3 separate regions of the Homo sapiens genome follow, and regions 1 and 3 are each linked to region 2. The links come from fine-mapping of genetic effects on gene expression. A gene starts in region 2. Each other region holds a variant in brackets. All regions are shown on one strand. Distances are from middle to middle. Region 1 has its middle 17 kb from the start of CDKL1. Region 2 holds the start of MAP4K5 (mitogen-activated protein kinase kinase kinase kinase 5). Region 3 overlaps ATL1 (atlastin GTPase 1).

Evidence for each region. PIP is the estimated chance that this variant, and not a neighbour inherited with it, causes the effect.
Region 1: its variant is the best candidate, but not a certain one, in a credible set for the expression of MAP4K5 in monocytes after LPS (Fairfax 2014, PIP 0.60).
Region 3: its variant is the best candidate, but not a certain one, in a credible set for the expression of MAP4K5 in whole blood (TOPMed, PIP 0.58).

The regions. Positions count from the first base shown.
Region 1 is chr14:50,411,300-50,415,545 of GRCh38, reverse strand. No RefSeq gene overlaps it. Among named protein-coding and RNA genes, the nearest start is that of CDKL1, 17 kb to the right of the region's middle. The variant A/G (reference allele first, on the strand shown) is at 1,787.
Region 2 is chr14:50,530,577-50,534,822 of GRCh38, reverse strand. MAP4K5 (mitogen-activated protein kinase kinase kinase kinase 5) reads left to right here and starts at 2,254. Exons shown (of 33, transcript NM_006575.6): 1 at 2,254-2,375; 2 at 2,665-2,881. The coding sequence starts at 2,774. It also overlaps a transcript of ATL1 not described here. RefSeq lists a silencer at 1,931-2,560.
Region 3 is chr14:50,610,732-50,614,977 of GRCh38, reverse strand. ATL1 (atlastin GTPase 1) reads right to left here. Exons shown (of 14, transcript NM_015915.5): 7 at 1,627-1,719; 8 at 467-605. Among named protein-coding and RNA genes, the nearest start is that of ATL1, 53 kb to the right of the region's middle. The variant C/T (reference allele first, on the strand shown) is at 2,270.

The DNA of each region.
Region 1 (4,246 bases), 120 kb after region 2:
CGTCAAGAGATTGAGACTGTCCTGGCCAACATGGTGAAACCCCGTCTCTACTAAAAATACAAACAAATTAGCTGGGCGTGATGGCCGCACGCCTGTAGTCCCAGCTACTCGGGAGGCTGAGGCAGGAGGATCGCTTGAACCTGGGAGGCAGAGGTTACAGTAAGCCAAGATTGTGCCATTGCACTCCAGCCTGGCAACAGAGCAAGACTCCGTCTAAAAAAAAACAAATGGCCAACAGATACATGAAAAAATACTCAATGTCACTAATCAGGGAAATGCAAATTAATGAGATATCACCTCACACTGTTATTATCAAAAAAATGAAAGAGGCTGTGGTGGCATATGCCTGTAATCCCAGTGCTTTGTGGGGCTGAGGCGGGAGGATCGCTTGAGGCCAGGAATTCGAGACCAGCCTGGGCAAACATAGCAAGACCCTGTCTCTATTAAAAAAAAAAAAAAAAATTTAAGAAAAATTACCTGGGTGTGGTGGGCATGCCTGCAGTCCCAGCTACTTGGGGGGCTGAAGTGGGAGGATCCTTTGAGCCTGGGAGTTAGAGGCTGCAGTGAGCTATGGTCGCACCACTGTACTCCTGCCTAGACACCAGATCAAGGCACTGTCTAAAAAAAAAATGCTGGAGAAGGAAACCCTTGTACACTGTTGGTAGGAATATAAATTAGTGCAGCAATTAAGGAAAACAGTATGGAGGGTCGTCAAAAAAAATTAAAAATAGAACTCTGTGATCCAGCAATCCCACTACTGGGTATGTGTCCAAAGGAAATGAAATAAGTATGTTGAAGAGTTACCTGCGCACCCAAGTTCATCACAGCATTATTCACAGTAACCAAATAAATCAACCTAAGTGTCCATCAGTGGATGAATGGATAAAAAAAAAAAAATAGGGTATATACACACAATGGAATACCATTCAGCTTTGAAAAAGAGAAGGAAATCCTGTCATTTGTGACTACATGGATAAACCTAGAGGACATCATGTTAAGTGAAATAAGCAAGGCACTGACCAACAAATACCACATGATTTCACTGACATGTGGAATCTGAAAAAGCAGAACTCATGGAAGTAGAGAGTAGAAGTGTGGTTACCAGGGCCTGGAGCTGTGCTGGGGGATCTTAGTTTGGGGATGGGGAGATGTTGGTTAAAGGATACAAAATTTCACTTAGGAGGCTTTGGGTTTTTTTTTTTTTTTTTTTTTTTTGAGACGGAGTCTTTTGCTCTGTCGCCCAGGCTGGAGTGCAGTGGCGCGATCTCGGCTCACTGCGAGCTCCGCCTCCTGGTTCACGCCATTCTCCTGCCTCAGCCTCCCGAGTAGCTGGGACTACAGGCACCCGCCACAATGCCCAGCTAATTTTTTTGTATTTTTAGTAGAGATGGGGTTTCACCATGTTAGCCAGGATGGTCTCGATCTCCTGACTTTGTGATCCGCCCGCCTCAGCCTCCCAAAGTGCTGGGATTACAGGTGTGAGCCACTGCGCCCGGCCAGGAAGTTTTTTTAATCAAGAACATTATTTCGTGGCATGGGGATAATATAATCTGCCAAAATAATGAAAAGTTGTTTTTGAGGAGAGAGATGGAAGGGCATGCTTTGTGATAACAAACTTTTACAGGTCTATTTGATTCTTTATGTGCATGCATACATTTGATTTTTTTCATGTTAAAGAAAAATGTAACTTTAAATAAAAGCATGAACCCCTGCATGACCAGAACAGTGTGACAAAGCCAGTTTCTTACACTGTACTTTGTACACAGTAGGCATTCAATAAATATCA[A/G]TTGAGCGTAGCTAATGTATGCGTCATGTGGAAGGAGGCAAAAGTAGCTGGAGACAAAAAGCTAGGTGAAGTAAATCCCATAAGGTCTTGTGAGAAAAAGCAGTTTCATCAAACTTCTTTTCTTTGGCTAAGCCTCCTCTCCAGCCTTCTCTCCCACTATTCTGCCAAGCACCCTGGGATACTGGCCACATAGAGGCCATGATCACTCCAGTTTCATTGCTGGGCTCATAATGGCTCTTCCATCCTACAGTTCTGATTTATTTTATCAAACCTTAAATCCTTTACCTTAATGATACTCAGTTCAAGCCATAACTTTTCTATGACAGCTCTGACCACTTAATCCAAATCCAAATCGTTTTCTGTTTCTCAGAATTTCTACAGCACATATGGATTGTACATTTCAGTGTAACATTCAATTGTTACCTACTAGCCAAACCACTTAGCACTTACCTTAGACAACTTATTCAACCTGTCTAGGCCTCCATCTTTTTCTCTGTTGATTGGAAATAATGGCCCCTTCATTGGTTGTTAGGAGGATTAAAGGACATAATGTGGATTAGTTTCCCGCTCATAGCAGTAACTCAAGAAAAACAAAAAAAGTTGACTTATTTATTTTTCACCAAGAAGTTCACTAAGGGCATAGGTATGTTTTCATTCTTTAACTGTTCCTTTCAGTATGTCACATATTGGTGGACTTAGCATGGGGCTTTTAAATTTTTTTTCTAATTCCTTTGGGTATATATTCAGTAATGGGATTGCTGGGTCAAATGGTATTTCTGGTTCTAGATCCTTCAGGATTCGCTACACTGACTTCCACAGTGGTTGAACTAATTTACACTCCCACCAACAGTGTAAAAGTGTTCCTATTTCTCCACATCCTCTCCAGCATCTGTTGTTTCCTGATTTTTTAATGATCGCCATTCTAACTGGTCTAAATGGGGAAAGGACTCCCTATTTAATAAATGGTGCTGGGAAAACTGGCTAGCCATATGTAGAAAGCTGAAACTGGATCCCTTCCTTACACCTTATACAAAAATTAACTGAAGATGGATTAAAGACTTACATGTTAGACCTAAAACCATAAAAACCCTAGAAGAAAACCTAGACAATACCATTCAGGACATAGGCGTGGGCAAAGACTTCATGACTAAAACACCAAGGGCAATGGCAACAGAAGCCAAAACTGACAAATGGGATCCAATTAAACTAAAGAGCTTCTGCACAGCAAAAGAAACTACCATCAGAGTGAACAGGCAATCTACAGAATGGGAGAAAATTATTGCAATCTATCCATCTGACAAAGGGCTAATATCCAGATCTACAAAGAAGTTAAATTTGCAAGAAAAAAACAACCCCATCAAAAAGTGGGCAAAGGATAGGAACAGACAGTTCTCAAAAGAAGACATTTATGCAGCCAACAAACATGAAAAAAAGCTCATCATCGCTGGTCATTAGAGAAATGCAAATCAAAACCACATTGAGATACCAACTATAGCATTTTTAAAAGAAAATATCTTCATGAACTTGAGGTCTGCAAAGATTTTTTTGAACAGAACATTAAGTTTTGACTATAAAAAGGTTGGTATGGCGGCTCACACCTGTAATCCCAGCACTTTGGGAGGCCGAGGTGGGCAGATCACTTGAGGTCAGGAGTTCAAGACCAGCCTGGCCAACATGGTGAAACCCCGTCTCTACGAAAACTACAAAAATTAGCTGGGCGTGGTGGTGGACACCTGTAATCCCAGCTATTCAGGAGGCTGAGGCAGGATAATTGCTTGAACCTGGGAGGTGGAGGTTGCAGTGAGCCAAGATCGCGCCACTGCACTCCAGCCCGGGCAACAAGAGTGAGGCTCCGTCTCAAAAAATAAATAAATAAATAAAAGTTGGTAAAATACTTTCTCTACTCAAGACGAGTAGAGAAAATCTTCATTTTATAAAAATGAAGACAAGCCACAGAATGGAAAAAGAGGCTTGTATTACATATAGCCACAGAAGATCTCCCAGAAGACATTAAGAACTACAATCAATAAGGAAAAGGCGGACAACCCGGTAGAAAAAAGAGCAAAAGATTTCGAGCAGGCATTCCACAAAAGATAGCATCCAAGTAATCAATAAATATGTGAAAATGTATTCAGCTTAATTGGTTATCAGATAAATGCTCCCTTCAAATGGATGCTGGACTGCTAAAAACACCAGATGTCCTGTATACCATAAACAACCACTTGGTGAAGCTTAAAAAAAGCAAAACCACTCACCGCATTTGAGTGAAATGGTTCATTAAATCATCATGATATTCAACCACATATTCTTTCCTCAGTAATTTTGCTAAGTGTAATATTTAGCACACTGTAAATGTGACATTTGATTTTGGGTATCTGACTTTATCCTGGTCATGTTTCTTAAAGCTAAGTCTTCCTGGATTAGTTACCACCATGATTATCTTACAATGAATAAAAGACA
Region 2 (4,246 bases):
AATTAACTCAACCAGTATTTTAAAAATCCTTAAGATTCTTTTGGAGTTAGTATAAAACAAATGTTTTCCTCTTTGCATGAATTGCAGTACAAGTAAAATAATGATTATAGCAGACACATAGAGTCTCGACTTTTTAACCACCACATAGAGTCTTGACTTTTTCCATGCTATCTGCCTCTAGGTTGATGGTCAAAGCATATGGATCTGCCATTACTGGCAACATAAAATATCCGCACTCCAGGGTCTTGTTGAAGCCTATGACCTCAAACATTTCACTGCCTAATTCATTTTAAATGCTGTATTTCAAGAATAACATGCTTAAAGGATTGTCAGGATATTTGTCCTCGTCTCAAACTGGGCATTCAGTTTCTACTTTATGAAGAAGGCTCATTAAATAAAATTTTTGGAAGTCTTTGCATTAGGAAAATATATGCCTCTTCTTGATCAATTGGTTACTCTTGATCTCAAAAACACTATAAAATCCTCTGGTTGGCCGATTTGTCACACTGTTCTGGTTTCGTATTTTCCTTCTCTTTAACGTCATACTAGTTTGCCCACTTATTTTTATCTTGTTTTATAGTAAGTGTTTTCTGTGTGCTGCCTGAAATTCCCTGGAGTAACGCAAGTGTAAACATGTAAGAATAAATATATTTCAGACTAGATAAAGGATCAGTGCTTATATGGCCAGAGGAAAAAAATCTCAAATGAATCTATGACAGTAAACAAGTGCTAAGATACCAATAGAACATTTGAAGAGATTTTGAGTCATCGAAGCCAAAAGTATGTGCCCACCAAAACAAGTGCCAAGAATCTTTGAAAGAAGGAACTGTTCTTCAACAATTTTTTCAATGCAGCAAACACATAGGCTTTGTCCATGGAGCATGTAAGTCTGGGCTTACTTATGTTCCCCAAATAAGTGCCCTTTGTGTGTGGAGCACAAGAAAATACATATATGCCCTGTCCTGTTAAGGTGCGAATTTAATTTCTACATTATACAATTATCAACAATAAGGAGTATTGTCAATTACTCCTTATTATACATTATACAATTATCAACAATAAGGAGTATTTTAATTCTCAAGAGCAGAATTAAAAATTGGATGTTCAAAGCCACAAGCCAACATCTCCAACTTGCTCTTTTATGATGTTTCAGTCACTAAATGCAGTGGCTGAGTGTTATCTGGCTTTTCTGTTCAAATTCTCTATGAGGCTCTAGAAATAACTTAGCCAGTATAATGTAACACTGGCAACTTAATTTCTACCTTCAGAGCAAGACTGGAACTGAAACTGCAAAACAGCTTGTGAAATATCAGCCAAATTACTTCCCCGAACTCCTGTTCCATATATGCTGTGCATTGTTAAGTATTTTAAGACCTCTTATATTCGATAACCCCCCTTACTATCCTGTAAAACGCTTTATAAACACTTTCCTGGGTGTCAGATGCAAAATCTTACCCTCTTCAAGCTGCAGATAAGGACACCGAGATGTTGCCAAATATGCTGTTTTGTCCCAGAGCACATACTGAGGAAGTGGTAGAACCAGAACCAGTCTGTGACCCCTTTGTTTTACTTTTGCGGAACTCCTGGTCTCATTAAAGGTGCAATACCAGCGATGAGACACTGCGTGTGCCCAACAGGGACAAAGGTCATTGAGCAGTCCTAGGAATTCAGACTTTCAGAAATGTCTCAGAAGAACTAAGTAGAAGGCAGGTTGTGCAGGTGTGCAGTGCAGCCTCAAACTGGTACCACCGGGATCGGTTTGCAAAACAGGAAGGTGCAGTAGGGTGTGCCGGGACTTAGTTAACCTGGCACTCCCCCACCTCCTTCCCCGGCGCCCCGCTGCCAGGTTACTTCTGGCCCGGTGCCCTTAACGTACCTTTTCCGTGTTTAACTTGGAGGGCTACGTTCCCATCGCCCTTCTTCCTCTACCCGTCACCCTACAGGCCTACCTGACAAATGTGGGGACGGTTTAGCCAAGGCCCGTTGGCCCACGAATGCCCAGGCGTGTGCCTTATTTCTGAGAGTGGGAGGGAGACAGCCCAGGCCCTGCAAGGACGCGCCCGGCTAGGGGGGCGCGGTGGCGCGGTCGGGAGGGTGTTGTGTTCTCAGCAGGCCTCAGGGCGGCACTCTGGTTCTGCGGCCGGAGTGCTCGGGCGGGCCGCTGGGCGCCGACCCATGCTGGCTGGGAACGTGTCTCCCGGTGACGCAGCCCCGGGTGGGGAACGTGGTGCGGCGGCGGCGGCGGCGGCGACTGTACGCGCCTCCGCCGCCCCCGAGAGGACGCGCCGTGCAGCGGCTGAGTGGCGGCGGCGGCGACGGCAAACCCGGAGCTGCCGGCCGGCGCGCGGGAGGAGGACGCGGGTGCGGTCTAGGAAGTAGGTCCCGGGCTCCGCGCTCAACAAAGACGGGGCCGCCCCCATTAGGTACGGAGCCGGCCCTGGGCCCCGGCTGGCGGGGAGGCCTCGTCGGGCAGTTCGCGGGCGGCCGGGGAGGGGGAAGGGCCGCAGACCGAACGGGGATACGGGGCGCCGGGGGCCCTTCCAGGCCCCTTTCTCTTCCACGGCCCCTGGCGGGACGGAAGGGAAGGGGCCGGGCCGCGAGGGCGCGGGCCGCTGGGGGTCGTAGCCTGCGACGCCAACCAGCCTTTGCTCGTCCCTCGTGCAGACGGAGCTGCGGGCGGAGGCTCCATGTTGGGAAGCGGCGCCGTTCGTGCTTGTTAGCGGGAATCCGGGAGCCGCGGGGTGAGCTGGCGGGGGCCGGGCCCTAAGTGAAGATGGAGGCCCCGCTGCGGCCTGCCGCGGACATCCTGAGGCGGAACCCGCAGCAGGACTACGAACTCGTCCAGAGGGTCGGCAGCGGCACCTACGGGGACGTCTATAAGGTAAGTGAGGCTGGCCGTGCTTTTTTCCTGCGGTCGACTGGGTCCCGGGAATGGGGCCACTTTCCTGCGAAGTATTGGGGCGAGAGGAGGATGCTTTTATTGTTGCCTCTTGGGGAGAAAGCGGCCGGGGTCCCTTTTACTCGGTTCTGAGCACCCTCGACTCATGGCTTGTTCTAATCGCTACCAACAGGCAGAACTAACCACACAGTTGCAAACCGCTGTTGCACTTTTTTTGTGGTTTAAAGGCTTTTTAATAGGGCTTATTTATGGTATTGAAGGGAATTTGAATCTGCTTGTGGAATTACACCGAAGGATGCTCTAGTGTTAGCATGGAAAAATGCTTCATGGAAGATAGACAGGAAAGAATATTGACATTCAGACATTTGCATTTTTTTAAAAAAATTTGTTTCAATGGATGAGTTTGACTAAAAAAGCCATATGAAACCCTGTCTCTGAGCTTTAACTGTAAGCAAACTAATATTGGTGACATTTATGCAAGCATTATCCCATATAAAAAGATGCTTTTCCTGGTGGAAGTTTGATCGTTTGTTTTTGGTTGGCGATAAAAATGTGATATTAACTTGCTGGGTTTTGTTTTACTTTAGCGGTTCCTTTCAGGGATTTATAACATCCTATAACCAAGAGTGGATATGAGCCGCTGTCTTTGTATTGTGCTGTTTTGTATTACTTAAGACAAACGATGAGAGTAAGTTACACCTAATTTAGGATTTTAAAAAACATTGTAGAGAAGCAAACCCAATTCCCCAAATCCGCTGAGTTCTTGAATGGTTCAGAGGAAAGAGATTGAGATTGCCTTATGCTTTTTGTTGTGTGTTCCAAAAAGGGAGCATTAGTGCAGCCTATGAATATTAAGGGCAAATTCCTTTGCTTTTTGCAACGGCGTTGTTTATTGGATTTGATCATGATATATATCGCATTGTGCCAAACAACACTTCTGCATATCGCTGAAGTGGTTTTGTGTCATTTGGGTAATTAACCAGTAGATTCCTCTGGGGTTAGGTTGTTGTTTTGCACAGGTGGTTCCCCTCTTTCTACTTACTTTTAATTTCCTCCTAATTAATATTAGCATTTCAAGGTAGTGGTATTATCAAACAGCCCTAGCACTGTTTGATTCTACTGAGATAAACTGTAATGGATAGGCTTTTTATTGCTTAAACAAGCATTTGAGTCTTCTGTACCAGGCACTGGTAGAGGTACTGAGGTGATGAATTGTGAGCAAGGTTCTGGCTCTTACCTTGTGAATACCTTTGAACTCAAAGTGTATGTTTGTAACAATCCTCTTCTTCTTTATGTAAAATTAGAGGTAGTTAACTTAGTTGTTTATCCAGGGATTAGCCATTTTGT
Region 3 (4,246 bases), 80 kb before region 2:
CACACAAGATTTCATTTTTAGTGAAGTTTTTAATAATTTATAATTAAATTCTTTAGGAGCAGTTTTAAAGAGCATTTCTTTCAATCTCTAATTACATAACTTAATACAGAATTCCAATACTATAGACATCTGTTTTCCTTTTTCATGTAGATAAGGAAAATTAAGCCTAAAAATATTAAGGAGCACTTCTCAGTGCACAGAGATAAGAAGGTGAGGGTTACTGCCTTCTGGGTGAACTCAGGATCCGGCCTATTTTTGCAGGCAGTGTATACATCCAGCGCCCATAGAATCCCACAGTTCACCAAGGAGGAGCACCAGCCCAGGATGCCCTATTCTCCTGACAATTTCTAATCATCAGCCTCCTATCAGTGGATAAACTAAACTATCAGCCATAAGCCCAATAGATAAAATGACATTTTTATAATCAGACTAAGTGATGCAAACATATTCATTAAAAGACACAAACCTTTCAATTTTCCATCAAAGTTTGGATTGGTAGCTACTTTTAAGCCAGGATGAGGTAGCAGAAAACAGGAAATGTTGGTGAAACAGGAATGGATGTGTTTTCTGACGTTCTGTAGTTCTTCATGCTGGTTCCCTGAGACCTGCAGTAAATCATTCTGAAGTTTAAACTACTTTCATCACAAATTATGCAAAGGAATTCTGTGGCATCTTATATTTGCTATGTCTGTTTGGTCCCACAATGATGAAAATGACACGACAGGGCTGCTACTAAAGAAAGAAGAAAGTCTTGGGTGGGTTTGCCCACACAGAGCCGTGTCTAAGTATAGAAAACGCATGGCATAGTTTTAATTAACAAGTGTCTACCCTTATGCTAACTCACATGGACCTTCCCATTTTTTAATACAAATTAGTGGGGTTTTAATCTGGCTAGTTTCTACAAATTCAAATTTTAATTCAAAGCACTCGTAGGAGCCACAAAGAGAAAGTAGGATATTTCTACTTTCTTTTTAGTAGATATTCAAGGCAGCCTCCTATCACCTGGTAAGTGTACATTTAAATTCTAGAATGGAATCTGAATAGTTGGGTGTTTACTTACAAGCTAAATCACCCTCACCTCCCACTTTATGTAAATACATATTTGATAGTTTTTAATACAGACAAACTTTTATGACTGTAAACCTAATAAGTTCAGAGATCCCAATTTTCAAGGAACATTTTTGTAAATTTTGATCTTTCTCCCCTGATTTCCCAGTAGGCACTTTTGGTGATATCTGCTCAGTGTAACAATTTGTACAGTATTGAACCAGCACGACACAGAAAGTGGAAGGTCTTCTAATTTTACATTCTGTGCTCTAAGATTGACTCCAGGGATTTCAAAATTAGATATTTGTTACACTGGCTTTGAAACCTCTATTAAAACCTGAATCTTGATATTTGCACTGTCAGTCTTGAAGTGATTTAATTCTTCAAAGTAAAAGTTTTATCTTTAGGAGTAACTTATTGTTTTATAGATATATACAAAGAATTCTTCACCTGTGTCATTAATATCGATAACAAATGAGATTGCGGCTAGTGGCTACTGAGTATCTATTCACCAAATGATCCAACAGAAATAATTCCAGATTATTAGTGAAATTTCATGCACCTAAATATCTAACAAACCTTGAGGCGTTTTTCCAAGAATTTGGCACCACCATCGGCTCCATATGAAAATTCGTATGGGAAACTCCAGTCTCGAACAAGAAATATCAGACTCTAAAAAATAATAAGAAAGGATTGATATGAGGACTTTAAGGTGCCTCCCTTTGCTTTATATGGAAACCAGTTATAATATCACTGTCATTTGAATATCGTTCTTTCCCACATTGCTGAATTAAAAATCAAACATAAAACCTTTGAAAGTGTCTGGGCAGTCTCTCCCCTATGAGATCATCCTACATATTTCCATTAAATGTGAACAGAAGGCTGTGTACAAAATGCCAGCATGAACGCACCCCACTGAGAGATGACAGAGATGACTCCCAAACTGCCTGAATGGAGCTATGTCACTATAATCAGATTTTGTGTAGAATAGGTTCCTAGGAATCTTCCTTTCTGATAGGTATGGCTGAATGCAGGCATAAGATATAAGATCAGCTTTTCTTTTATAAAGAAATTGTTTTAATGTTTTTATAGAAATGATATGTATGTATGCGCATCATAAAAAGTTCAAACTAGATAGCAGAGTCCAGAGAGAAAATTTAAAAATGCACCCCACATCCCATCTCCTGGATTTAACGATAGTTAACATTTGGTGAACATCATC[C/T]AGTCGTCTCCCTAGGTACATACACAAATGGAAGAGGGCTAAAAGAAAGAAAAAGGAGAAAAACAGTTTTATAAAAAGTAGAACTGTTTTGTATGTGGCATTTTAAATAAAAAGTATTAAAATGCACTTGAAATTAACTGACTAAAAGGAAGATGAGATGACATTTAAAATACTGCTGAATTTCAAGTAAATGATTTTTTTACCATTAGAAGTTCTAATAAATTCACTTGAAATTAAGAACAAAGATTTTGGAAAACATTGAGCTGGGAGTCATGTGTTTAACTTTTTATACCTTTGAATGGAATATAGTCCACATACAGAAAACTGCACATTAAGTATATAACTTAATGAATTTTCACAAACTGAACACATTGTGTAACTAGCACCTAGATCAAGAAACAGAGAATATCCAGCACTCCATAAGCCCCTCCTCCTGCCACCCTCCAGTCATGACCCCTTGCTCAAGGGTAACCACGTGCCTGACTTTTAACAGCATCAGTTCGTTTTGCCTGTTTTTATAATTTGCGTAAGTGGAATCATACATGATACATGATATATTCTTTTGGTCTAGCTTCTGTCACTCAACATTATATTTGTGAGATTAATTATATTATTGCATAATTGTTCATAATTCATAGTCATTACTGCGCAATTTCCCATTATGTGAATAATGATTAATTCATTCTGTAGATGGGCATTTCAGTGTCTCTAGTTCTTGGCTGGCATGAATAGTGCTGCTATGAACATTCATATGTCTTCTGCTCTTCTTTCTGTGTCTTCTTTCTTTTGCGTTTATAACTAAAGCAGAATTACTGGGTAGAGAGTGTGCACATGTTCAGGACTGGTTGATATTGTCCATTTTCCAAAGTACCAATTTATAACCTTACCAGCAGTCTTAGAGGGTTCCTGATGCTACACATCCTCACCAATGCTTGATATTCTCTGTCTTTTTAATTTTAAACATTCTGGAGGGTGTGGTTTAGTAGCCTAGCCCATTGTGTTCAATATGCATTTCCCTGATGATTAATGAAATTAAGCACATTGTCATATGTTTGTTGGCCCTTTGTGTTTATTCTTTTTTGTGAAGAGGCTGATCAGGTCTTTTGTCTTTACTTATTGGTTTGGAGTCATGCTTTTTAAATATATGTTTCACCTTTAATTCCCTGCCATAAGAAAATCAGCATTCTCAGATTTCCTCTTACCACTCCTCCCTTCCTTCTACGTTTTACATGTCATAACTTTGAAATAAAACCAAAAGCAGTTTGAGTAAATATGTTTAAAATGTAATAAACATTGAAAGATACTACAAATGCATATGGAAATTACAAGACAATTTATATATGTACTATTTCTATGTGTTCCCATATCATCCTGAACTTCCCCTATTATAACACTAGAAGTTGGTGGACTTCTTTCAGTTGTAAGTAATGAAATCCAATTCCAACAAGTTTAAGCAAAAAAGTAGATAATTGGTTCTGTAATTGGAAAGGTCAGCGGTGTAGGTGGATTTCAGAAGGATTTGGGACACTTAAGTGACATTAAGGCTCTTTCTCTCTCTGAACAGTCCTCTCTACATGACGGCCAAGATGACCACTGAGATCCAGATTCACATCCTGCTAGCTTAGCAACACCAGTGCAAGTCAGTTTTTCAAGACAGCTATGTCAGGAAATTTCCAGGAATGGGCCCAATTTGATCATATGCCCAGTCCAGAAATAATCACTGTGGTCAGAGGGATGGGATGGTCTGAACTGTCACCTGTATGTAAGGGGTGAATGTCATCAGGTTCACCTGAACCAGAGGGAATTGGAGAGAGGAGTTCTATTGCTAGAAGGGGAACTAGACGGAAAAAGAAATAGATAACTCCAAACCATAATGTTATGGTGCATTATTTATAGACTGTAAGCCTTCTAGAGGCAAAACTTGAATCTCTTTCTTGATCATTATAGTATCCTTAACACCTAGTACAGTGCTTGGCA